Linked DNA regions of Homo sapiens: all the other regions are linked to region 4. The links come from fine-mapping of genetic effects on gene expression. A gene starts in region 4. Each other region holds a variant in brackets. All regions are shown on one strand. Distances are between the middles of the regions. Region 1 overlaps COPG2 (coat protein complex I subunit gamma 2). Region 2 holds the start of COPG2IT1 (COPG2 imprinted transcript 1). Region 3 overlaps COPG2 (coat protein complex I subunit gamma 2). Region 4 holds the start of COPG2 (coat protein complex I subunit gamma 2). Region 5 overlaps COPG2 (coat protein complex I subunit gamma 2).

What was found. PIP is the estimated chance that this variant, and not a neighbour inherited with it, causes the effect.
Region 1: its variant is fine-mapped to the expression of COPG2 in whole blood (INTERVAL, PIP 0.98).
Region 2: its variant is fine-mapped to the expression of COPG2 in subcutaneous fat (TwinsUK, PIP 0.95).
Region 3: its variant is fine-mapped to the expression of COPG2 in monocytes (CEDAR, PIP 0.95). The same link has a PIP of 0.9 or more in CD4 T cells.
Region 5: its variant is fine-mapped to the expression of COPG2 in macrophages (Alasoo 2018, PIP 0.95).

Annotation. Positions count from the first base shown.
Region 1 is chr7:130,593,546-130,598,651 of GRCh38, reverse strand. The region is part of intron 9 of COPG2 (coat protein complex I subunit gamma 2); the gene reads left to right. LOC124901746 (a long non-coding RNA gene) reads right to left here. Exons shown (of 2, transcript XR_007060524.1): 1 at 2,543-5,106; 2 at 1,676-1,798. Among named protein-coding and RNA genes, the nearest start is that of COPG2IT1, 53 kb to the right of the region's middle. The variant G/A (reference allele first, on the strand shown) is at 2,782.
Region 2 is chr7:130,542,376-130,547,481 of GRCh38, reverse strand. All of the region lies in intron 20 of COPG2 (coat protein complex I subunit gamma 2), which reads left to right. It overlaps COPG2IT1 (COPG2 imprinted transcript 1), which reads right to left and starts at 4,029. Exons shown (of 1, transcript NR_024086.2): 1 at 582-4,029. The variant A/GAAATGAAATA (reference allele first, on the strand shown) is at 2,312.
Region 3 is chr7:130,509,198-130,514,303 of GRCh38, reverse strand. The region is part of intron 20 of COPG2 (coat protein complex I subunit gamma 2); the gene reads left to right. Among named protein-coding and RNA genes, the nearest start is that of MIR335, 16 kb to the right of the region's middle. The variant A/TA (reference allele first, on the strand shown) is at 2,252.
Region 4 is chr7:130,666,450-130,671,555 of GRCh38, reverse strand. It overlaps COPG2 (coat protein complex I subunit gamma 2), which reads left to right and starts at 2,808. Exons shown (of 24, transcript NM_012133.6): 1 at 2,808-2,924; 2 at 4,022-4,074; 3 at 4,627-4,707. The coding sequence starts at 2,888. It overlaps TSGA13 (testis specific 13), which reads left to right. Exons shown (of 8, transcript NM_052933.4): 8 at 2,373-2,913. The coding sequence ends at 2,542. RefSeq lists silencers at 2,436-2,545, 2,636-3,225 and an enhancer at 3,496-3,605.
Region 5 is chr7:130,601,489-130,606,594 of GRCh38, reverse strand. All of the region lies in intron 9 of COPG2 (coat protein complex I subunit gamma 2), which reads left to right. It also overlaps the pseudogene RNA5SP246. Among named protein-coding and RNA genes, the nearest start is that of COPG2IT1, 61 kb to the right of the region's middle. RefSeq lists a silencer at 4,397-4,597. The variant G/TG (reference allele first, on the strand shown) is at 2,874.

The sequences.
Region 1 (5,106 bases), 73 kb after region 4:
TCATGCAGTGGCTTAGTAATGAGCTGAAATCCTGGGATCCAAATCGTGCCATACCTAGGAAAGTTATGAGTTGCTTCTTCATTTGTGAAGGTCTCGTCTTTAAGATAGCCTCCTATTGTTTGACAGACAAGATCCGGTTTCCTGGGCTTAGGATGTATCCCAGATATTTTATTTCCATTTTAGAAATCTGGGCCTTAGATGGAGAGACCTGATAATCTTCTTTCTCCCAGGAAGTTTAGGACTTGAATGGTATTCTTATCTGAGTTCTCTTTAGTGGAACTATATACAAGGATGTCATCCACATCTTGGAGTACGGCTTCCCTTTCTACCTCTAGCTCCCTTAATTCTCATGCCGAGGCATTGCTGAACAAGTAAGGGCTATCCCTAAAGCCCTGAGGCAGTACTGTGCAGGTGTACTGCTGGGTAATAATAGTTTCAGGATTAGTCCACTCAAAAGCAAACAAATATTGAGAGTCAGTGTGCAGAGGGATACAAAAAAAAAAGCATCCTTGAGATCTTATACCATGAACCAGCCCTTGCTCTAATGTCCCAGCTTCCTACACTAGAAGCGGCAACCATTTCCTACAGGTTTGCTGTTAGGGCTGTTTGGTCCTTGGGCGAAGAATCCCCCTGGGTGTCATTTGGGCCTGCTGTCTGTCCCATTGTTTGCCATGCTGAGTCCTTTCAGCCTCTTCAGCCCTATCCCTATTATTGAATAACCTAAAAGCTACATGAAACATGTGAGTAATAGGCATTTGGGATCCCAAAGCCAATTTCTGCACTTTCCTCCTCATGTTCCTCCTGATGTCAGATGCTGATAGACTAATAAAGTATGTCCTTAGAAAAATTTGGCCAGCATCAATATTGGGTTCAATGTTAGCATATATTTTTTAGGGCCTTCACAAGGCTCCCCTGGAACACAGCAGGGTTTTCATCTTTTCTTTGAGTTATTTCCCTTATTTTATTATAGCTCACAGGCTTAGTGGTACCTTTTTTTCATTCCTTTCACTAAACAAGTCATCATGTGATTTTTTTTTTTCTTAGATAAGCCTGGCCCTGTTGATAATTCCAATTAGGGCCACTGTTAGGCACAGACATGGCCTTTACAGTATATTGTTCGGGGTCCCAAGCCAACAAGGTGTCAGCATAAGCCTGGGCCTGTGCCCAAATACACTGCTTTTCCTCAGGGGTACAACACATGGACAAGATAATATGAATATGTCCCCAGGTTAACTCAGATGAGAGTGAGAGAGCCCAGAACCCCTCCATAACTTTAGTTAGGTCCTCTGAAAATTGGCCCAACCTCTGTCTGCAGTAGGCTAGATCAGACATCGAAAAAGATACACCCAGATAGTCCCAGCACCCCCACTGGCCACCTCCCTAAGTGGGCATAACTTAGAATGGTCAAGAATGTAGGAAATGCACTGTGGGCAACCCTAGCAGGGCTCTGCTCCTTCTGTAGAGAAGGGTGTGAAGGTTGGTAAGGAGATGGACTAGCAGGAGTCTGGGGGTACATTTCCCAAAAGGGGGATCGTGCAGGGTATCTGGTGTCCCATTTGGTTCCCCTAAAGGGCTGTGAGCCTAACAAAGGCAGCAGTTCCCGCGAGGGTCAAGGTTCTGATAAAGAGCCGTGAAGGCTTGTATTAATACATATGCTACTTCAGTCCACTTCTTCTGATGTTTACAAAAAAGATTTAATTCCAAGATGGTATTGCATTTTACGGTCCTAGACTCTGGCCATTGCACCCCATTTTCTAAAAGAGAGTTACCCATAGCCTTGACTTGTCCTCGGCACGACCTGAAAGAGAAAAGAACAGTATAGTTTCCTCTTCGGAGGGACTAGTTCCAGCATTTACAAAATGCCAGGTGAATGAGCTGGTGGTTCTAATGTGGCTGTGGATGCTCTGGGCTAGGTGGCCATAAAGATGATACTGGTGGACTGCAGTGGAGTCCCCAGATGCCAATGGGACCTCAGCCCCAGCCAGTGTCCAGGCTCTTGACACCAGCTCCATGGTCAGGCCGGGGAGACAGTTGTCCATGTTCCCTTGGCTGGCTGCCTTGGTGTCCAGGTGTCCCTGGAGCCCTAGTGTTGCCCAGGCGTCCATGGCCCCTGGGGCTTTGCTTTCAAGGTTGAGTAGGATGAGTGTGGACCTAGTTTGAAAGCAGCAAGCCTGCCAAAATCCATCTGAATATTTATTACCAAGTAAAACTTCGTAGTAGAGATAATTCAGCATGGCCAAATAATAGCCACCTTGAAGGGCCCCCTTAAAACAATAGGCCTAGATTTGGCATTCCAGCGGACCTATTTTGCTGTGTCCAGAGTTCACTAAACTTTTGTGTGAAGTATGAGGAAGAAGCATGAGAAGAGAAAACCACAAAAGCAGGGTTTAAAGAGAGATGGGAAAGGGAAAACAGTTCCCAACCAAGGTCAGTGTCTTAGCGCAGCTGGTCCCTTGGGAGAACAGAAGACTTCCCAGGAATAAGTCATAATGCTCCTTGGCAGCTGTCCAGCCACTGGGACATGGGATTTTACCCTACTCACCCTCATTAGCCTCTTGCCCAGGAGGCCCATGGCACCTCAGAGCTCAGGTGTAGGTCAAAGCCTTCCCACCTCCATTTGTCACTGTCAGGGCGAACTGCGTTTTCCAGCTGGAGGAAGCAGAGGCACTACGGCTGAGGGGAGTCAGGCTGTAGGAACAAGGAAGAAAGTAGCAGTAACTCCAGAGAACGAGAAGACTCCAATTAAGGCCCCAATGGGACTTACCAACTGCTGGTGGTTCT[G/A]ATGTGGCTGATGATGCTCTGGGCTGGATGGCCATAAAGATGATACTGGTAGGCTGGAGGGGGGGGGTCCCCAAATGCCGATGGGACCTCAGCGCCAGCCGGTGTCCAGACTCTTGACACCATCATGAGAAGGAATTCAAGGATGAGTCAGAAAATAGTGAAAGTACAGAGATTTTATTTCAAAGCAAAAAGTGCACACTCAAGGGAGTGTGGGGGTACTCAAGAGAGTTGCATCTTGTTTTGTTCATTTAGTATTTTCTTCTAAGATTTCACCCTTGTTTTTGCTTATAGCTTTTGTTCACTTAAATTCTATTTTATATTTCCTTGATAATTTCCCAGCTTATAACTTTTGAGATGTAACTCATAAACCATAAAACTCACCTTTTAAAAGTATATAGTTAATTTTTAGTATATTCACAAAACTATGTAACCACCACCACTAATTCCAGACCATTTGCATCACCTCACAAAGAAAGCACCCAACCCATTAACAGTCACTCTGCATTCTCCTTTTCCCTCTCGCCCTGGAAAATACAAATCCATTTTTTTGTCTCTGGATTTGCCTGTTCTGGACATCTCATATAAATGGAATCACACAATATGTGGCCTTTTGTTTCTGGCTTCTTTCATTTAGTATAATGTTTTCAAGATTCGTTTATATTGTAGAAGTTATCAGTACTTCTCTTTATGGCTGAATAATATTACATTGTATAAATATACCGTATTTTATTTATCCATTCATCTGTTGATGGACATTTGGCTCGTATTCATTTTTTGGCTATTAATGAATAATGCTGCTATAAATGGTCATGTGTAATTTTTTATGTGACAATACATTTCAGTTCTTTGGGGTACATACCTAGGATCAGAACTGCTAGGTCATAATATAACTCTGTGTCTAGCTTTTTGAGGAACTGCCAAACTGTTTTCCAAGGGGGCTGCACCATTTTCCATTTTATCAGTAGTGTTTGAGAGCCCAATTTCTCCACATCCTCACCAACACTTGTCATTGTCTGTCTTTTTTATTATACCCACCCCAGTAGGTGTAAAGAGGTTGTGTGAATCTAGTTGTGGTTTTGATTTGCATTACCCTAGTGATCAGTGATGTTGAACATCTTTTCATGTGTTTATTGCCAATCTCCATATCTTCTTTGGAGAGATGCCTATTTAAAATCTTTGCCCATTTAAAAAATTAGGTTGTCTTTTATTGTTGAATTGTATTAGTTCTTTGTATATGTTGGATACTAAACCCTTATCAGATACATAATTTATAAATGTTTCCTCCAATTCTTTGGGTCATCTCTTCACTTTCTTGATATAGTGTTCTTTCAAACACAGAAGTTTTACATTTTGATAAAGTCTAATTTTTCTGTGTTTTGTTTGCTTGTGCTTTTGGTATTACCCCTAAGAAACCATTGCCTAATTCAAGGTCACAAAGATTTACACCTGTTTTCTTCAAAGAGTTTATTATAGTTTTACATTTTACATTTGGGTCTTTGATCCATTTTGAGATCATTTTTGTGTATGCTGTGGGATAGAGATTCAACTTAATTCTTTGCATGTGGCTATCCAGTTGTCTCAGCACCGTTTCATGAAAAACGATTTGTTCTCCATTGAATTGTCTTGGTGTGCTTGTCAAAGAATTGTGATTTTAATTTCTAATTTCCTAATTACTAATGAGTTTGACAACTTTTTTCTGTGTTTACTATCCATTTGGATATCCTTTCTATTGAAATATTTGTTTGAGTTTTACCCAGTTTTTAACTTGGTTTTCTGCTTTGTTCCCATTGATTTTCTAGGAGTTCTTTATGTCTTCTAAATGTGAGTCCGATGTTGATTGTATGTGTTGCAAGTAGCTTTTCCCATACTCTAGCTTGTCTCTTCCCTTTCTTGGTGTCTTTTGATGAACAGAGCTCCGTAAGTGTAAGGTAGTCACATTTATCAGTCTTTTACTTTAGAAATAATGTGTTTGGTGTCTTGCATAAGAAACATTTTCTTACCCCAAATTCACAAATATATCCTCTGTACTATTTTCCATAAGCATTATAGCTTCAACTTTCATATTTTAGGTTTGTAATCTACCTGGAATTGTTTCATTTTTTTTTTCTTTTTTGGATATAGTATAAGGTAGCAATTTAATTTCTTTCTTCTCCATATGAAAACCCAATAATCTCAGCACCATTAGTTGAAATATGTGTCTATACCCACTACTGTGCAATATTAGCTTTGTTATAAATCAGGTGTCTTTATGTGGATTGGTCTATTTCTGGACTCATATTCACCACTGCTTTTTATTTCTGTTTATGTGCCAGCAACACTCCACCT
Region 2 (5,106 bases), 120 kb after region 4:
TTTAAAACTAAATCTCTGAGTAAAATTTGCTGAACACTTAATCTTAAAAGAGAAACTGAGTGTGTATAGCAGTAGCACAAAAAGGAACTCAAGCTTTCTGTTGGAATAATGTGACCACTTGTGAGAGTTCATATACCTGGTCTCCTGTGAAGAATCTTGACCCTCTTCTCCTCAAAGTTTCTATCTAGTTAGATAGAACTTGGTTATGTAGTAGATTGTTGGCATTTTAAAATACATCATTTTTGAAGGTCCTGTAGCATAAGGCTGGTGTCTGAGAGCATGTCTCAGCCTAGTGAGTAGCTTAGCCAACCATGTGTGTCCACATTAAGAAGGGCTTTTAATTCCCTCCTTGACCCATATGCAGTCTTTGCAGGGTGGAGAAATAGCCCCTAAAAGACAGCCAACTAGTGCCAATAGTAGTATTTACTTATTTGGAGACTTGGGAAGGTGAATGTCAAGTATTTATTCTACTTGATTCCCCCCATCATCATTTTCCTCCTTGATTTCTTCTCTTCTCATGTTCAGTGCACAATATTCGTAACTGTTACCCAGTTTTCACAGAAATAAGCACACACATCACATTTATGTTTTGAACAACTTTTACTGCTCGTAAGTACAGGAGAAACAGAAGTTAAAAAATTAACAAATACTGGGAAAGTTACAGAGTTACAATAAATCATAAAAGCACTAGTAAATAGTTATCCCTGGTCATCATTCAGTTACATTTGGGGCTTAACCTGCTTTCTTTTAGCCCCTCTCCAAACTCCCTTCTTAGATGTTGGTTCCTGGGAGCCCCTGTCCAGTCTTATCTGTGTTGGGTGATAGACTAGGCTACTCAGACTCTAGCACGAGGTAGATTCACGTTGGCACCACTGCTGTGTCTGAATCCCAGATTGTTCCCTCTGGCCCTGGGTGGAACTCTACTTCTATTCTTTAGCCACCCTGGATCCATAACCCCCTGAGTAGGAAGGCACTTTCCTATCTGGCCTCCAATATTTCTCCTTTGAGCTCGAGGCTATCTGGCTTTAACCTTTAATTACCTCCTTTATCCCTTTGTGAGGTTTCTCTAGTTCCATTTCCTTGTAACTTCGCTTTCTCTCCTGGTCTGTTTTTCTCTCCAGTTAGATTTGTCTGAAATATGTCCACTAGCCAGTAATTAAGCTGGCTGTACTCTTAAGTAAAGCTAGTTTTATTTACCTTTTTCTAAACTAGTATTTGGGCCCAATCTTAATGTAGTCCTGTGGTTTCTACCATTGTCTGGAGAGACTCTGCACTTCATCAGTTCTTTTCCAGTAGCCATCCCTCCATGTTTCAAAATTCCTCCTGCTATTCTACCTCTCACCAATGTCCTGTTTTTTAAGGGATGCTATTACTTTGCCACTTAATTTCAGAGGGAAGTGAAATGCTGAACCCATTGAAGAATCAATCCCTTGCCAATTGAGAATACTAGCTCTTCCCACTTCCCCAGGTTCATTTTGCTAACTAATAACTCAGGTGGCTCACACCCCAGAAAGTATTCTTAACGGAATCTAAGAAGTATAATTTTATAATACCAAAATACACAAAACAACAATATAGAAATTACATATAGTATAGGAAAAAACCAACAACAACAACAAAACATTTCCACCAAGAGAGGAAAAAGAGGAGAGGTTTTCTTGCCCCTCTTCACTAAGGAGTTTTAAAACATAGATCTTACAAATTAGCCCAGAGATTTCAACATTTGGTCTGCTGGCTATGGACTCTTTTGCTTGATGGTTTGTTTGATTTTTGTTTATAAAAGTTTGGCATTTAGGGAATTGTTTAAAGTTTTGTTAGTAGTAAGTTTATATTTGACCCATCATATACCTACTTAAAAAACAAACTCCTTTCTATTTAGTTTTTTGTCAGAATTCTCAAATTTTTAATCCATGGCCAATCTAAAGTCTATGCTGTGCAATGGAAGAAGTGAAATACCAGGGCATAGATGGTAATAGGTATCTTTCACCCATTCCTTCCTTTTTGCATTTTCCCATCACAGATATTCCAAATTTTACCTGTCACCTCAAGGTCTTAAACATCAATATGTCTCATTTCAGAAAAATAATATTTTTCCTTATAATCGCAGTGAAAAAACAGAAATTCTTGGTTTGATTTCCTTCAACTTGAAAACAGTATAGCATAATAGAAGGGAATATGGGTTTGATAGACAGATGAGGATTTGAATGCTGGCCCTGCTACATACTGACTGTGTAATCGTGGACAAATTATTTGATCTCTTAGGACTGTTATAGGATGAAATGAAATGAAATGAAATGAAATGAAATGAAAT[A/GAAATGAAATA]ATAGGTAAGTTGCTTCACATGGTGCCAGACACATAGAACCTTTTGGTGTTTAATTCTAGAATTATCCACTTTCTTCCTTTATCCTCTCTAAAATCAAGTCTTCCAGAGTTCAAAAGACACATACCCTCTAATCTCTTCCAGAAAGTTGTTCCATCAATTATTCCTTTCTTTGATCTATCTTTAATCTTTCCTACTCCCCTTTACTTTATAAATGTATAAAAATCTACCCTATCTGAAAAAATTTGCTTTAACCCAACATCAATATATTACCATAACACCTTCTCGCAAAGGTTGGGCAATTTCTTGAAAGACTATGGACATCCTAAGTCTCTATGTAACTAGTCCTACTTATTATCTTTCGTCCTCCCAGAATTTGTCCTTTACCTAAAAAGTTTTAGAAAAGCCTTTAAGGCAACATTCCTTCTAAGCATTCATTCTCTTTCAGCAGCTCTGTTTCCCCTGAATATTTATTGCACCCGTAACAATATATATTATATACACAACATTCTACCAATTATTCCCCATGTTTGACCTTTTTAATGCAACTACCAACTTAACTTTTTATTCCACTACCTATTCAAAACCATTCTAATCTTTATATTGCTTTTATTTATCAGGTTTTATTGCATCATATTTCTTGTTATCTGGAACCATTTCAACAAATATTAATAACTTATTTTAAAACAGTCTTTAATAGAAAATATTCATACTAAGATCAGCTGTAACAGTACATGTATGTGAGTTTATTTTCTCTGATTTTCATTGGAAATATTGCCTGCCATATAATGATTCATAATTATTTTAATTTCTTGACTTTCTGCCTACACTTCCTTAAAGTGCCATCTTAAGCTACTGTAGTTGCCCTTCCATTATTTTTTGTTCAGTATTAACCATATTAACTTGGCATTCTGTACTAAAAACACAACTTCAGTTAAGTAAGATTTGCCTCAGAGTTTTTTACTTTAACTCACCTCCACTCACCCACTGGGATCCATATTATTAGGCTCAGTGAAGCTTTGCATTCTTCTAAGCCAAGCATTTAATCTGAATTTTAACTCAAATACTAAAAAAAGCAGTATTGGTAGAACATTTGATTCAGCCACCCTTTCCCCTTCCTTTATCACTAGAATTTGCTTCAGTCTGGCTTTAAAATCAATATTCCTGCAGTCTAACCCATTGAAAGATCTGCCAGGATTCTCAGTCTGAGATTTCCTTATTTACCCACTCATTTGTCACATACCCAGTCTGCCATTCCTCAAACTCACTGAAATTTCCCTCATTTCCTTTCAAGCCATCTTTCTAACCTATTTGATACCCCTTTTCTACCCCATCATCTTCAATGTCTCTAATTTTTGTTGCTGACTTGACTTAAATGATCCTATCTCTACAGAATGCAACTTAATCATGGTGTACCCACTCATTTCTGCCTTTTGCCTTAGGGGAAAAACAAAACAAAACCCTGCTCTATTGGTAACGCCCAGTCTTTGTTCATCTGTCCTTGAAATTGATTCACAATGTGAATATGTATAAGCTTCCTCATGACCCACCTCCAGTGTTCAAAACACTTCCTTCCTGTTCTCTTGGTGTCCAACATACTTACCTGCATCCTTAGCTAGTAGAACTGACATTCTGAGGATTGCTGATGAAGCTCATCCTTCAGACTCCGCTTCATAAACCTATCTCTATATGGGACCGTTTATTCTCCTGACTCTAAGCATTCATCAAGTGTTTCCCTCAAGGAGCTTTAAGGAAGCCACCAAATTCCCTAATGACAAGTTCTTTCTATATAGTTTTCCTCTTTGCCATTATTCCATACTGTGGATCAAGGGGCAACAATACCCACCCTACCAACTCTGACATTCCTAAATCCCAAAGTGGTTTAAACTGTATACTGTCCCCTTAATTTCAATCTTGTTAAACAGAGTAATACTTCCTTCTCATTTTGGCTCTGCTAATTTTGTTGGAGACCACATTAAACACATAGTAACCTATGTCCAACCCCCACACTTGCAAATTTTACATTGTTAATTGTTTGCTTTCAAAATCCTGACCTTCAGTGATTGCCAACACTGCCTTCCATATCAGTTGGGGTTGCTTTACCATCACCCTCTATAAGGTTTCTTCTTTTTCTGTTTTCCTATTCAATGAAGTAGTTACCATGACAGGTAAAGTGTTGTTACCCCACTCGCTTGTCGTCTAGGATTTAACTTCTATTCCCTAAAATGCTCCTACACTCAGCCATGATACCGAACATACCACTGACTTGCCCCTGAGATTTGCCAGTGCCCCCACTTTGGGAACTCTGCATTCCACCTTCCCCTATTCCATGTCAGCCCTTTTACTGATGCTAAGCCCTGCACAAATTCATAAGGTTATCTCCCCTCCTACCTGCCTCCTGTCCCTTCTTTTACCATAAACTTCCGTCATCAAATTTACATCCCAATAACTGCCTTAGAATGGCTGCCAGACTCTCTCATTCCATGTGGTATGCCAGTGTAAATTTGCACAGTCTACACACAGTGTTGCCTCCCACTGTCATCTTCCAGAAACTCCTTTTCATCTTCAACATCCAGTCCTGCATGCCCTGCCACCTCCAAGTCAATCCACAGACTCAGGAATCTGTCCTGAACTCTGACCCCTTCCTGCCCTGCCCCCCACTGATGACACCACTGCCAGCTTCCATGTCCTCAACCTGCTGTACTGAGTCCATCTGCTGTCTCAGTTCACCCCTAACCGTCCTGTATTCTCAGTTCTGCCTCTAAGGAACAGTGGTTTCCTCTCTCTGTTGTGTCCT
Region 3 (5,106 bases), 160 kb after region 4:
CCTCTTCCAATATTAGTCATCCATTCTACAAACTACTCAAAGATCTATCCTGGTGTCTTTAAGTGCTGCCCTATTAGGGCTCATCTTAATCCATCTCCTTCTAATCCTTCTCATTAAACTTCTCACAAAAGCTTCGCATTACTTTTCAAGCACTTGTTCTTCTTCCATTGTATCTACTGCTTTTCAAAGTCTGCAATTAAGAGCCAACATTTGACTGAATAAACCCACATTTTTTAAGGGTTTACAAGATTTCCCATTCTGGGAAACACTTTCCTCATTTTACCTGTCCATGCCACTCCACCTACGCTTACCTACTCTTTGTATAGTTCTCCCTTTACACAGTTTCCAGTCTCTCCTTATTTAATCTTACACTTATGGGGCCGTATCCCTCCAGTCAATACCTGCCAATCTTCAAATGACTCCGTCTCTTCTGCAGGCTCTTCCACTATTTTCCCCAGTTGACCCTAGTAGAACAACTGTTAGTCACTTGTTTTTTCAGCTATCATCTTGTGTATCATTCTCATGAATTTAGTCTTTTCTTCCTCGTCACCTCCACACTACTCTGAAAACACTTGCACTTTCAGTTCATTCCAGACCTTCATAGGGTTCCTGCCACTGCCTATGGCAAGAATCCATTCCATTTAAACTCCTTGACCTTTCACTCTATTGGTCACACTTGTTGCTTCAAACATCATTCAAGCAAAGATTCCCAGATGGCACTTCCTCATGACACCAGTTCTTATTTATCTACTTACTCTTTGTATTCTCTTTCCTTCTTTGGTTGTAACCCAGCTTAACTCACATCTCTCTACTGCATATGCAGCTCTGCCATCTTCTGGTGTTCCTCATTCTGGCCCTCTTTAATGCCCTTCCCTACCCATACATATATATGTATATGTGTATATATATATATACACACACACACACATATATATATATATATACACACACACACACACACATATATATATATATATATATATATATATATATATTTTTTTTTTTTTTTTTTTAGACAGAATTATTTCACTCTTGTCACCCAGGCTGGAGTGCAGTGTGGCCTGATCTCGGCTCACTGCATCCTCCACCTCCCGGGCTCAAGTGATTCTACTGCCTCAGCCTCCCAAGTAGCTGGGATCACAGGCACCTGCCACCACGCCCAGCTACTTTTTGCATTTTTAGTAGAGATGGGGTTTCACCATGTTGGCGAGGCTGGTATCAAACTCCTGACCTCAAATGATCCACCTGTCTCAGTCCCCTGAAGTGCTGGGATTACAGGCATGAGCCACCGTGCCCAGCCCCTACCCACACTTTATATTCCACACTCCAGCCTAAATCCTACATCTTTTCATCTTTTAGCTTCCAGCCTCCATCTTCTCTTTCTCTTCCCCTGTGATATTTTCATTCATGTTTCCCTAGGAAATGTCTGTCACTTTTAGCCAATCCTCACATAGCAGAGTAACTTCTAGGCAACTTCAGTGGAACACTGTGCAATAGTCTACGATATCTTAACTGTCAGTCATCCTTTCACTTGCCATCTCTCTCTTTTTTCTTTTTTTGAGACGGAAACTCACTCTGTCACCCAGGTTAGAGTGCAGTGGCGTGATTTTGGCTCACTGAAACCTCCAGGATTACAGGCATGTGCCACTACGCCCAGCTAATTTTTGTATTTTTACAAAAATTTTTAGTAGAGACGGGGTTTCACCATCTTGGCCAGGCTGGTCTCAAACTCCTGACCTCAAGTGATCTGCCAGCCTCAGCCTCCCAAAATGCTGGAATTACAAGTGTGAGCCACTGCACCCGGCCTTACCATCTCTACAGAAATAGATATAGACTTTTTTACTTCACTCTTCATAATCACCCATTCCCCATCTAGTAGCAATAATCCATTCTCTGGACAAACTACATGTTCACACTCTCTTAATAAATCAAGCCTAATATTTCTAAAGTTGCCATCTATAGCTTTTTTGTTGTTTTTTGTTTTTTTTTTTTAGATGGAGTTTTGCTCTTGTTGCCCAGGCTGGAGTGCAATGGGGCTTGGCTCATGTTAAATTGTCAGAGTTGTATATTAACAAGGAGAGTTGTGTATTAACAAGGAGAGTTAACAAGGCTCACCAACTCGGCTTACCACAACCTCTGCCTCCTGGGTTCAAGTGATTCTCCTACCTCAGCCTCCCAAGTAGCTGGGATTACAAGCATGGGCCACCACGCCCGGCTAATTTTGTATTTTTTTTTTTTTTTTTTTTTTTTT[A/TA]GAAGACACAGTGTTTCACCATGTTGGCCAGGCTAGTCTTGAACTCCCAACCTCAGGTGATCCACCTGCCTCAGCCTCCCAAAGTGCTGGGATTACAGGCGTGAGCCACTGCACCCGGCCCATCTATAGCTTTTTATCAGCATTCATCAGTTTATAACTTTCCTATCAAGCAAGTCCTTTAATTAGCCATTCCCTCAAAAGCTTTAAGAGCTAGTCTGCTGCTGCCTCCTACTGAATTCCTTGCTCCTTAACCCTTTCTGTGTATTTCCCATGCAGCCGACCATTTAGACCTAGACAGGATACCCCATTCTAAATCTTTATTCCACACCTGCTCTGCCAGTAGGCCCTTCCTTATGTAATATTTTCTTTCCTTTGCTTCCAGTCTCTTATTTCATACTCTCTTATGACTTTTGGCCCAGCAATGCTGTCTTACCTTCCTGTTGATGTGTGTCATTCCTTAGTGACCAACTCCTTTTCATCTGAGGACAACTCTAATGTTGCTTTCCAGTACCATTCCTCCTTCCCTTTCTGAATTTGTCCTAGAGAAAAACTCCCTCCCACCATTTGTACAGCATTCCCACAGACTCAACACGATTTTCCAGGTAGGTGTGTATTGCTTATTTTGGCACTCACTGCCCAGCTTTCCTCGATGTCCTACACACTATGCTGCACCCATTGCTTCTCAGTTCAGTCCAGACCTGCATAGACTGCTGCAGTTAGCCTGTACAGATCCATCTCTTTTGCCTTCTTTCTAATCTTTTGCCCTAGTGACATACCCTTTTCTTTAATTATTATTCTAACAAAGCTTTCTGGAAATACCTCATAAGTGTCTCTTACTTTGTCATGGTCTCCCCCAGGTGGTTGAGACCTGGCAGCTCCCTCCCACCTTTCCCACTCTGCCCTTTGCCACACTGCATTTTCTGTACCCTGGCCCAACTCACATGTCCCTCTCCTGTCTTAGCTGCCAGCATCTATCTTTTCTCTAATTCGCTGGGTTCTTTTCATACAAATCTCCTTAGTGGTTGACTCTCATTTTCAGTGAATCCTCACAAGACAAGCTTAATTTCAGAGAACAGTTTTAATGCAGATCTTCAGGGCATTCTTTCCTGATTCTCTTTGGTATTTGCCTTGCTTTGTCTGTGTAACTCTCATATTTACATTATGGCAGTGCATTCAGTATTTTCTTGCCATGGAAAGGCCCCCGCATCTTGCCTCCTCGCCCCATTTCGTCATCCTCTCCAGCAGCTTCGACAGATTACTGCCTAGACTTCCTTAGATCCCTGTAACCTCTCATTGTATCAATCAAACCATTTAAGTAAAAAAATTCCCACTAAGGTTTCAGGAACATTATCTCTACTAACACCATTCCTATTTACTTCCTTAATCTCTTTCTCTGTATCAGGTCCTTATATGTAAGTGTCTTCTGTCTTTACCTCCACATAAAACTCAGCCCCTGTGCCCAGTCTGTGATCTGCCTTCATACCTGATGTTGTCTCTTTGTCCTCCTCATTTGCTGTAGCCTCTCTGCTTAATTGGAACCACACTGGGTTGCTATAATTAATGTCTCTCCTGACTCTTCATTCTAACTTGATCATGACCTTTTCCCCTACCATATTCTGTATCTCTTTCATGGTTTAAAAAAAATGCCTCACCTGACCTGTTCTGGCCTTGTGTTAACTTTCACTTCTTTCCCCTTCTCTCTGAAGAAAATCCTATCCTAATTAAACCACAGTCGTTCTTTTCTCAACCCCTAATGGCATTGAAATTGATTCTGCAGGCTTGATAGGTTCATTCTTTCCTATATGGGAAAACCCACTGCCATCGTCTGTTTTCAGCATATTCTGTTGAATCCATCTGCTCTCTGAATTCAGACCCATTCTTCATAGTCCCCACCAGTGGCTTAAATTAGGCACCTTATCTAGCTTATCTCTAACCTTTCAATCTCTTGACTGCCTCAGCTCACCAGAGCCTGTTGGAAAATCATTTGAAATACAAGGTATTTTACAATTTATTCCTAAACAAATTATCTTCTCAGCACCTAGGCATTAGCATGCCTCTTACTGTTTCCAGCTGCCCGGTGGACTTTCTGGCCTCTTTCCTTTTGCCTGTTTGTACATCTTCCTCTGCTTGCCAAAGCTCTTTTGCATCTTTTGAGAGCCAGTTAAACTATTATATCGTTTCACATTTTTTACAGTTTTCCCAGGCTATTTGTTAATCCCGCACCCTCACATGGCACTCTCTTAAAACTTAAAGGATCTATGGCATTGAGTTGTAAAGTCATAGATAGATCACACACACACACAGCCCACACACTTATTTAACTCCTAGACAGCTCCTAGAGACAGAGATCATGTCTCAGTCATCTTTTTATCCAAGTGTCTGGCACATAAGCTTATACCTTTACGTGTAATGTCAACATGTATTGACAGTCACTACATGTGTGGATGGATGAATGGATGGAATTTAAAGTCAAGACTGAGCAGATGAAAGTCTTATTACCCAATCTGTCGTATATGGTCTTCACATCTGAGCCTGTTCTTTCCTCTCCTTGCCTATCCCCCAAATAACTTTTTAACTCTCCCAATATCTAATATTTTTTGTACCTATAAGCTTTTTCCAGACCATAGACAAGATCCTAAATGCCTTTTCTTCATCCCTGCTTGCTAAATCCCCTCCTTCAAACATTTCAGAAAATACTGTCTTTACTTTTTATAAAGACTTCACTTTCCAAAAATGTACCCCCACCTCCATTTCTTATTACTTAACACCACTTGTGTGAAAACATACAACTGCCCACTTGCTTTTCCATTTAAGACACTGACTTTACCAATACTAGAAACTCATTACTGACCTAC
Region 4 (5,106 bases):
TCCTGGAGACTATTTTTCCCTATAGCATGGAAGTTAACAACAAATAGAGGCTCAAAAGGTGCAAAGCTCTGGACCCTGTTTAAATCCTCAAATTTCAAGAAAGCTCTAGCAGTGTTTACTAAGCTATATCACCCAGCACTTTAATAGTTTTTGCCATATTGATGTATTATTTGCTGTTAATTTACTTAGCATTTTTTAAAAGGATTTTTAAAAAATCTTGTCCTAATTAATACTATATCATTGATATCATGGTTTTGATGTACAAATTATATGCTTTTCTGAAACACTTATATCAAATTTATAATAATGAAATTTTAAAATGTTTATCTATGTACCACCTAGAACCACCCAGTGGTATGCATATTATACTTTGAAGAAAAAACTGCTCTAAAAGGGCCAAAGGATAAGTCTGTGTGTCTTAGAGGTACAAAAGTCTCTGGGATTGGGGTAGGGAATGGGGTAGAAGGGGCTTGGAATAAGGTTGTATGGCAGAGGGTACAATGAGAATCCTCCTCACATATTATCATTTATTTAACAGTATTTCAAGGGTTCCTACTAAGTGTCTGACACTTACCAAGCACCAACAATATCACTTTCAATATGTGAAAGAGATGAAACAGATCATAAAAGGCCTTGACAGGCTGGGCGTGTCCGTAATCCTAGCAGTTTGGGAGGCTGGGGCAGGAGGATTGCTGGAGGCCAGGGGCTTGACACTAGCCTGGGCAACATAGTGAGATCCTGTCTCTACAAAAAATAATTTAAAAAAATTTAACAGGGTGTGGCGGCATGCACCTGTAGTCTGAGCTACTTGGGGGGCTTGAGGAAGGAGGATTGCTTGAACCTAGGAGTTCAAGGTTGCAGTTAGCTGTGATTATGCCATTGCACTCCAGCCTGGGTAACAGAGTGAGACCCTGTCTGAAAAACAAACAAACAACAATAACAAGAAATCGAAAATACCACAATGCCTTAAATATTATTTAAATAAAGGTTTGGGTTTTATCCAGTAGGCAGTTTGGACCCAATGAAGAATTTCAGGGCACTGAGTACACATTTGTGTATTAGATATATATAATTGGTGGGTCCTCAGACTTCACCAGCTCATGGTTTTAAGATAAGGTCCATTTCTCCTACTGGGTTTCTCTCCTCAAACAATTCCTGAGACTCCCTAAGGTATCCTTGCCTGTCCCACAAAGCCATTGCAGTGATTGCTCAACCCGTCTGCCAGCCATCCTCAGTCCAAATAGTCCTGATACCGAAGGCCTGGGGTCATATTATACCATCCCTTAACTGGCTTCTTCAGGCTTCTCTGCTCCTGCTATACCTATCTGCCACCACATCCCATCCCATTTCCACCTACTGATGCTCTTAACTCCGTAAATACTGCACAGCTAAAAACAACCTGTGGTATTAAACAAAACTTCATAGATATACAGAAAAGCTGAAGAACAGCAGAGAATGATTGATCTTGCTTTACAAGGGGCTAGTCTTAGGGTCAGCCCCAAATCTGAACTCAGGTCCTTCTACTTCTCAGCAGGTCTCCGGGGCATTACCCACCTTGAGAACCTCTGGGCCTATTATCTACACTGTCTCTGCCTAGGTTCCCAATACCCTTGGGCCAAGGAAGAGGAAGAGGATGTTTCCTTCCCCAAAGCCTGTTTATTTTCACCCCCAGAATAAATGAGTGCAGACTTCTATTTCCTTCAAAGAAAACTCCACCTACAAAGTATGACTTGACCTTTACAAGCCATATAAAGCAAACATAGTAGTTAATAGTACATTTAGTCAAGTCGGAGTTAAATCTTAAATGATACCATATGTAGGATATCAACAGTTCATCTTAAATCTGTATTTCAGGGAAAGAATTTCTCTAGGATGTAGAATGTAATCTAGGTTAGAATTTCTCTAATTTTGCAGGGGCACGATCCTGTTGAGTATAGACCCAATTTACATTTCTAAACAAGTTATGCCAGTGAAGCCAAAGGCAGACAAAGTTTCTTAGCTACACTCTTAGACAAGAGAACAGAAAGCCAGCATACACTCTGAGAAAAAGAGGAACATGAGTTAGGAATGAATGCACGTTAATTTAGTGAGTTTCTTAAGTGTCAATATGGTTTCAGATGGAATCATTGAAAGAAATAGGCTTGAACAAGGAAGACTCTAAACTGGCAATGAATTTTCCACTGGGTTTTGATGAAATGAAGGAATCCAAAAATTATAAAATAGGTTGGGAATGGTATTACACGGTCCAAAATCTACCCTCTAAAGACCAGCCTCTGGTCCCTCCAAGTGCGTCTCCTTTACATCTCACATTAAGTATCCTTCGAGTACTTCTGAAAAGCCACATTCACCAGGGTGCCTGTGCTTTGTCGTAGCTTCCAAGAAGTCAGCGAGTGAAAGGCCAATTTCCAAAGTGATTCGGGAACCACTGACACTCGCATCGCTCTTGGAAGACATGCCCACCAGAACCGCGCCCGGGGAGAGCGCCTTCCGCAACGGGAGGGCCCCGCAGTGGATTATCAAAAAGGCCACGGTCATCGGGTGAACACAGACCCCTCAGTCCTCCCGCCTCGCTCTCTTGAGACTGAGGGGTCCGCAGAAGTCGCCACCCAAATAAAACCACATTCCTGCTGCTGCGGGCGTGGGCTCCCGGGTCGCAAGCCGGGAGGGTCGAGCCGAAGTCTCCGGCGGGCCGCAAGAGGAGAAGGGGGCGTGGCTGCGTCCCGGGGGCCGAGGGCGGCCGGGGAGGGCGGGCCTTGGCCCCGAGTGAAGGCGCGGCGGCCCAACCGGCGTGAGAGCGCGGGGCCGGCCTTCCTGCAGCCTCTTCCGCTCGCCGGCTGCGGCGCCTGGGACGGTTGCGGTGGGTCTGGGCGCTGGGAAGTCGTCCAAGATGATTAAAAAATTCGACAAGAAGGACGAGGAGTCTGGTACGCGCGGGGCTTCCGAGGCCCACCCTCAGCCGCGGGACGCCCCTTCCCCCGCCCGCCGCCACCTGCTTTCAGGCCGGCGGGGCTGGGGGCGTGGGCGCCGCCGTGCCAGGGGGCCGGAGCTGGAGCCGGCCCCTCCCCTCCCCTCGCGGCTGCCCGGGGCCTGCCCGTAGCCCCTCCCCCGGGCGCCGGAGCCTCCCTTCGGGCCGCGCGCTCCCGCCCCGGCGCCCGCGCGCGCCCCGTTCCCGCCCCTCTTGCGGCGCAGCCCCTCCGAGCCGCCTCCTCCCCTGCGCGCGGGCCTCCGGCGGGGGCCGAGGGCGTGCGCGCGTCTCCGCGTCCAGGGGTGCTGGTAGGGTCGGACCCCTAGTGGGAGCACCCTGTTCCCGGGGCTGGGGTCGACGGCACAGGGTGTGTGTGGAGGAACGTTCAGGTGCCTGGTACCTTATCGTTTTCCTGGGGTCACCGGCTCTGTCCAGGTCCCCGGGGGCAAGACTGTCCCGTGGGACACAGCTCGTTGAATGCTCAGGTGTCCAGAAGTGACCTGCGTCTTGATGCCCGTCTTTGGTCCAGAGCAAATGGGGAAGATGCCAAGCATCCTCAAAAAGAAAAAAATTCTCAGTGTTTGGTAGCATCTCCCACAGTGTGAGAGGGGGTTGGGTTAGTCAACCTCCATGGCCTCTTGCACCTTTACGCCTGCATGATTCTCTGGGAAACTTCGTTTCTGCCTCTCCTTAAGTGTTAGAAACACATAAAATACTGCTTACCTAAGGAAATCAAAAGCACCCTACTACAATCTCATTAATCTTCGTTGTTGTGGAAATGACACATTTTTAACATTCATGGAAAAAGAGGGCAGGGAAAGAAGACACTCATTTTGGAGAGGGTTGCTGCGAAAGAGAAGTCTCAGCTCTTCGAGTATGGCAGTGACAGAGCCGGGATCAAAATGATTTCATTCAGTTCGTATGCGTATTAGCCATGATTATCACTGTGCCATCCAAGTGTTCACTTCCCAAGCATTCAGTACCCTTCTCTGGAAAGTATATAAGTTTGTGTAGAACAGCTGTTCAGGACATTTTTTTGTTTTGTTTTATAAATAGGTAGTGGCTCCAATCCTTTCCAGCATCTGGAGAAGAGTGCTGTTTTACAGGAGGTATGACTGGGAAGTATCTTGTGCCCTTTCTTTTCTATTCTGTTTTAGAGTGGTGGGCAGAGAATCCCTGGGCTGCTGTGATCACGACATGCAAAACAAGAAACGTAACAGAGTTTAGGGAATATAGATTTGAGGGAAAAGAAAGAGGGGTTACTTGTCACAGGAGAATTTGGAGCTTATAGAAATGCAAAGACATGAAGACTGTCACAGGTTGGGAATTTTAAATGTAAGAACAGGTGTTTAGTGCAAGGTTATTGAAATCAGTTATCTGTATTAATCTCATTGTATTAGTATGATATAGATAAGTATTGTGATCCTTATTTAACTGGTATAGCCCATAAAGTTGAAGTAGTCAACCTAAGGGAATGAGAAAGTATAGGATGGAAAATCAAGGCCACGTGTAATAATTTATCAGATACCTTAGTAAATTGAGAACTATAGACAATGTTCTTTGGATACCGTGATTAAAAATAGTCTGTATTAAAGTTGATTTGCTATAATCTGTGATAGAAAAGGTAGAAAAGTAGCAATGTTTTTTATGTTTTTTCATAGGCTCGTATATTCAATGAAACTCCAATCAATCCAAGAAGATGTTTGCATATTCTTACAAAGATTCTTTACTTACTGAACCAGGTATATTATTTTTATTTTCCTCAGATAAGTGTGTCCTGGAATAGAAATACTGAAGATTCAGTGAAATACTTTCTGGAAAGTATATTTATTTATTTTAAATTCACTTAATTTTAACATATACAACGTTTGGTTAACAAAATAATATGTAAAACTTGAGTACGAGGACTATGACATATACAGGTTGAGTATACCTTCTTTGCAATGCTCGGAACCAGAAGTGTTTTGGATTTCAGATTTTTTTGGATTTTGGAATATTTGCAGAATACATACTCACTGACTATTGCTAATCTGAGTATCTGAAATCCAGAATGCTCTGATGAGTGTCTCCACTGAGTGTTATATTGGCACTCAAAAAATTTCTGATTTTGGAGCATTTCAGATTTTGGATTTTGAGATTAG
Region 5 (5,106 bases), 65 kb after region 4:
TATCCAACTTCATCGTTTACAAGTTCTGCTTCACAAATAACTACAGGGCACAAATTCACTAAGCTCTCTGCCAATACATAATAACAAGGATCTACCTTACTCAAGTTTACATTAATGTGTTTTTTACTTCCTTCTGAGCCCTCACTACAGCATCTTTTAAGTCCAAATTTCTGTAGGCAGTTCATAAGCCCTGACCAGCAGTGTCCTTAAGAACCAGATCGATTGATCTTTCTTTCTCCTTCCTTCCTTCCTTCTTCCTTCCTTCTTTCTCTTTCTTTTCTCTTTCTTTCTTTTCTTTCTCTCTCTCTTTCTTTTTCTTTCTCTTTCTCTTTCTTTCTCTCTCTCTCTCTCTCTTTCTTTTTTTTATTTATTTTAAAGTCTTGCTCTGCTGCCCAGGCTGGAGTACAGTGGCACAGTCTCAGCTCACTACAACCTCCGCTTCCTGGGTTCAAGCCATTCATATGCCTCAGCCTCTTGAGTAGCTGGAACTATAGGCATCCCAGCACTTTGGGAAGCTGAGGTGGGTGGATCATTTAAGATCAGATTTCTTATAAGTCTCTTCAAAACTAGGCTTCCTCCATCATGCTCCTCAAAATTCTTCCAAGCTTCCACCCAGTGCCTAATTCCAGTCAGTTCTACAATTTGAGGTATTTGTCGCAGTAACACTTCACTTACAGGTACCAAAATCTGTTAGTTTTTTTTATTGTTGCCATAACAAATTACCATTAAATGTAATGGCTTACAACAAGATCCATTTATTATCTCAGATCTGTAGATTAGAAGTCTGACACAGGCCTCATGGGGCTAAAGTGAAGATGTTGGTGGAGTGCTGTTGCTTACTGGAGGCTTTGAGGAAGAATCCACTTCCAATCTCATTTAAGTCGTTGGCCAAATTCATTTCCTTGAGACTGTAGGTTGTAGGTCTCTGTTTCCTTGCTGGCTTTCAGCTGGAGGTTAGTCTGTGCCTCTAGAGGTTGCCTGTATTCCTTCTCATGCTTTCAATGAGCAACTAAAGGCCTCTCTTTGAGTCCCTTGCATGTTGATTCATACGTGTCAGAGCCAGCAATAGTGTGTTGAGCTGCACTTTGAATCTCTCTGATTTGCCTTTCTGCCACATTTCTTCTGCCTCCTCTTTCAGCACATCTGCTTTAAAGTGCTCATGTGATTAGATTGCACCTACCTGGGTAATTTAGGTGACAATCTTAATTATATCAGCACAGTTCCTTTGCCATGTTGTAACGTAACATATTCATCAGTTCTAGGAATGAAGACATAGACATCTTTGGGGAGCCATTCTGCCCCAGCAAGTGCAATAACTGAATCAGATAATTTGCTGAATGGACTTAACAGCAGATTAGAGATGGCTGATGAGAGAGTCAAAGAGAGTTAGTGAATTTGAAGATAGAGCAGGAGAAAGTAGCTAGTTTGAAGAACAGAGAGAAAACAGATTAAAGAAAATAAAGAGCCTCGAAGAACTGTGGGATAAGATCAAGTGGCCTAACACATATGTAATTGGAATCTGGAAGCAAAGGTGATAGAATGGAGCAAAAAAGATATATGAAGAAATAATGACCAAATATTTCCCAGTATGGGTTTATTCTAGTAGTATAAGGTTGATCTAACAGTAAAACATAGCATAATATACCTCATTTTAAAAATACAGAAGAGTCTTAATGCCTTAATGGGTGCAGAAAAAAGCGGTTGATAAAATTTAATGGCAATTCATGATTGAAATCTCTGCCACCAGGACTGGAAGGGAACATGATTATTCTGACAACAGTACAAAAAAACTCCACTAAACTTTATACTTATTGGTGGACTATTAAAAGCTTTCCCCTAGAGATTGTGAATGAGACAGACAAAAATGCCTGCTATTTTTATTTTTTAAATAGTATTTTGCTAGAAGGCTTACTTTGTGCAATAAGTGAAGAAAATAAAATACCTAAAAATTTGAAAGGAGGACGTAACACTATATTTGGAGATAATATGGCTATATATATAGGAAATGCAAAATAAACTGTACATTATCTATTAGAGCTCATATGTAAATTTACCAGTGTTGCTGGTCAATATCCGAAGTCATTTTATTTCTTATTCCAGCAACCCATCAAAAAGATAAAATTTTGTAAAAATGGTACAATTTATAATTATATTGAAATCAAATCCTTGGGAATGTATCTACTAAAATTTGTGTATATCTCTACACAGAAAATTACACAATATTAAAGTATGACCTAAGTAAATGAGGCATATAACATTTATGGAATATTCAATATTGTAAAGATACATCTTCTTAAATTGACCTATGGATTCCACAAACCCCTAATTACAATCCCAATTGGCTTCTTATAAATAACCAAACAGAAATGCCTACATTTGTGTGTTAAAAGACATACAGTTGATCCTTGAACAACATGGGTTTGAACTGCATGGGTCCACTTACACATGGATTTTCTTCCACCTCTGCCACCCTTGAGACATCAAGACCTCCTCTTCCACCCCAGCCTACTCAATGTAAGATGATGAGGATGAAGACCTTTATGATGATCCACTTTCACTTAATGAATAGTTATATCTTCTCTTCCTTATGATTTTCTTAATATTTTCTTTTCTCTAGCTTACTTTATTGTAAGAATACAATATATATTACATATAACATAAAACGTGTTAATGAACTATTTTTGTTATCAACAAGATGATTAATAGTAGGTTATTAGTGATATTTTGGGGGAGTCAAAAGTTACATGTGAATTTGCAGCTACATGGGGGTTGGCACTGTTAACCCCATGTTGTTCGAGGATCAACTGTACAAGATGCCTATAGTACTGTTATTCATAATTGCCGCAAATTTTTTTTTTTTTTTTTTTTTTTTT[G/TG]AGACTGAGTTTTGCTCCTGTTGCCCAGGCCAGAGTGTAATGGTGCCATCTTGGCTCACTGCAACCTCTGCCTCCCGGGTTCAATTGATTCTCCTGCCTCAGCCTCCCCAGTAGCTGAGATTGCAGGCACGCACCACCACACCCTGCTAATTTTTTGTATTTTTAGTAGAGACGGAGTGTGACCATGTTCGCCAGGCTGGTCTTGAACTTCTGACCTCAGGTGATCCACCTGCCTCGGCCTCCCAAAGTGCTGGGATTACAGGCATGAGCCACCATGCCCAAATTGCCACAAAATGGAAGCAGTCCAAATGTCTATCAGTGCCAGAATCAAAAAATAAATTGTGGTATATTCATATAGTCAGATAGTATACAATAATGGAAATGAACAATTACTGTTAAATACAATCACATAAATACATCTCACCAAGAAGTCATACACAAATGAATACATTTTATATAGTTCCATTTATGTTTATTTTAGACTTAACATAGGCACAACTAACCTGTGGTATTGAAAGTTAGTATAGTGATTATCTCTGAGGTAGGAGCACATTAATTTTGTAGTAATTCACGTATGATTTTCATACTGTCATGTGTAACACCAGATTAAAGGGATAGTAAATATTTATTTTTCCATATAATTTTTGCAGGTCAGGGGTTTGGGAATGTCTTAGCTGGATGGTTCTTATTTGGGGTAGAAAAGTTGATAATTCTGAATTGATGTTTACAAATAATTTTTTTTTAATTAGAAGCTCTAAAATTCCAGAGGATGACAACATGAGAAATAATGGTGTAGAAGGTGGTATTAGTTTATGGCCATACCACCTTAAACAAGCCAGGTCTCATCTGATCTTGGAAGCTAAGCAAGGTTGGGCCTGGTTAGTACTTGGATGCGAGACAATCTGGTAATACCGGATGCTGTAGGCTTTAAAAAAAAAGGAAAGTGGTTGGCCGGGTGTGGTGGCTCATGCCTGTAGTCCCAGCACTTTGGGAGGCCGAGGCAGGAGGATCACTTGAGGTCAGGAGTTCGAGACCAGCCTGGCCAATATGGTGAAACCCCCGTCTCTACTAAAAATACAAAAATTAGCTGGGTGTGATGGTGTGTGCCTGTAATCCCAGCTATTCAGGAGGCTGAGCAGGAGAATTGCTTGAACCCAGGAGGCAGAGGTTGCAGTGACCTGAGACTGTGCCACTATACTCCAACCTGGGCAACAGAGTGAGACTTTGTCTCAAAAAAAGTAAAAAAAGGAAGGTGGTATTAGATGGAAGTAAAAGTATGCTGTGTATGTGTGTTGTCATCTTGTATGGGAGGAAAATATGGTAATAATATAAAACTTTATTGTAATATTATAGATATAGCTAATATAATATTTAATTATATAAAGAATGTAAATTGAATGTAAAGCTTTCAAAATGTCGAAGAAAATGGAGTGAGGAAAAGTTGATTGAAAATTGATAAGGAAAAAATTGATTGAGGTAAAGCCTTCAAATAGACAACAGGAAAGAAATCGGTTAGAAGTAAGTGTAACTGTATGTGTTATCTCTTGCTATGTGGTATATTGGACCAAAAATTCACAGCTTATAAGTAATACTTACTATTCCCTAGTTGCTATGGTCAGGGATCTGAGAGAATCTGTCCAGTTTGATTCAAGGTCCCTCCCTCGTATGAGTTTATAATCAAGTCGTTGGCCTAGCCTGCAGTCATCTGGGCCTGGAGGATCCACGTAATTTTACTTATATAGTTGTTGACAAGCCTCAGTTTCTCCCTGGCTGTTGGCCAGATGCTTTAGTTTCTCACTTTGAGAGCCTTCCCTCCTTCCTTCCTTCCTTCCTTCTTTGCTTCCTTCCTTCCTTCTTTGCTTCCTTCCTTCCTTCCCTCCTTCCTTCCTTCCTTTTTTTATTATACTTTAAGTTCTGGGGTACATGTGCAGAATGTGTAGAACGTGCAGTTTTGTTGCATAGGTATACATGTGCCATGGTGGTTTGCTGCACCCATCAACCTGTCATCTACATTAGGTATTTCTCCTAACGCTATCCCTCCCCTGGCTTCCCACCCGCGACAGGCCCCGGTGTGTGATGTTCCTCTCCTTGTGTCCATGGGTTCTCATTGTTCAACTCCCACTTATGAGTGAGAACATGTGCGGTATTTGGTTTTCTGTTCTTGTGTTAGTTTGTTGAGAATGATGGTTTCCAGTTTCATCCGTGTCCCTGCAAAGGACATGAACTCATCCTT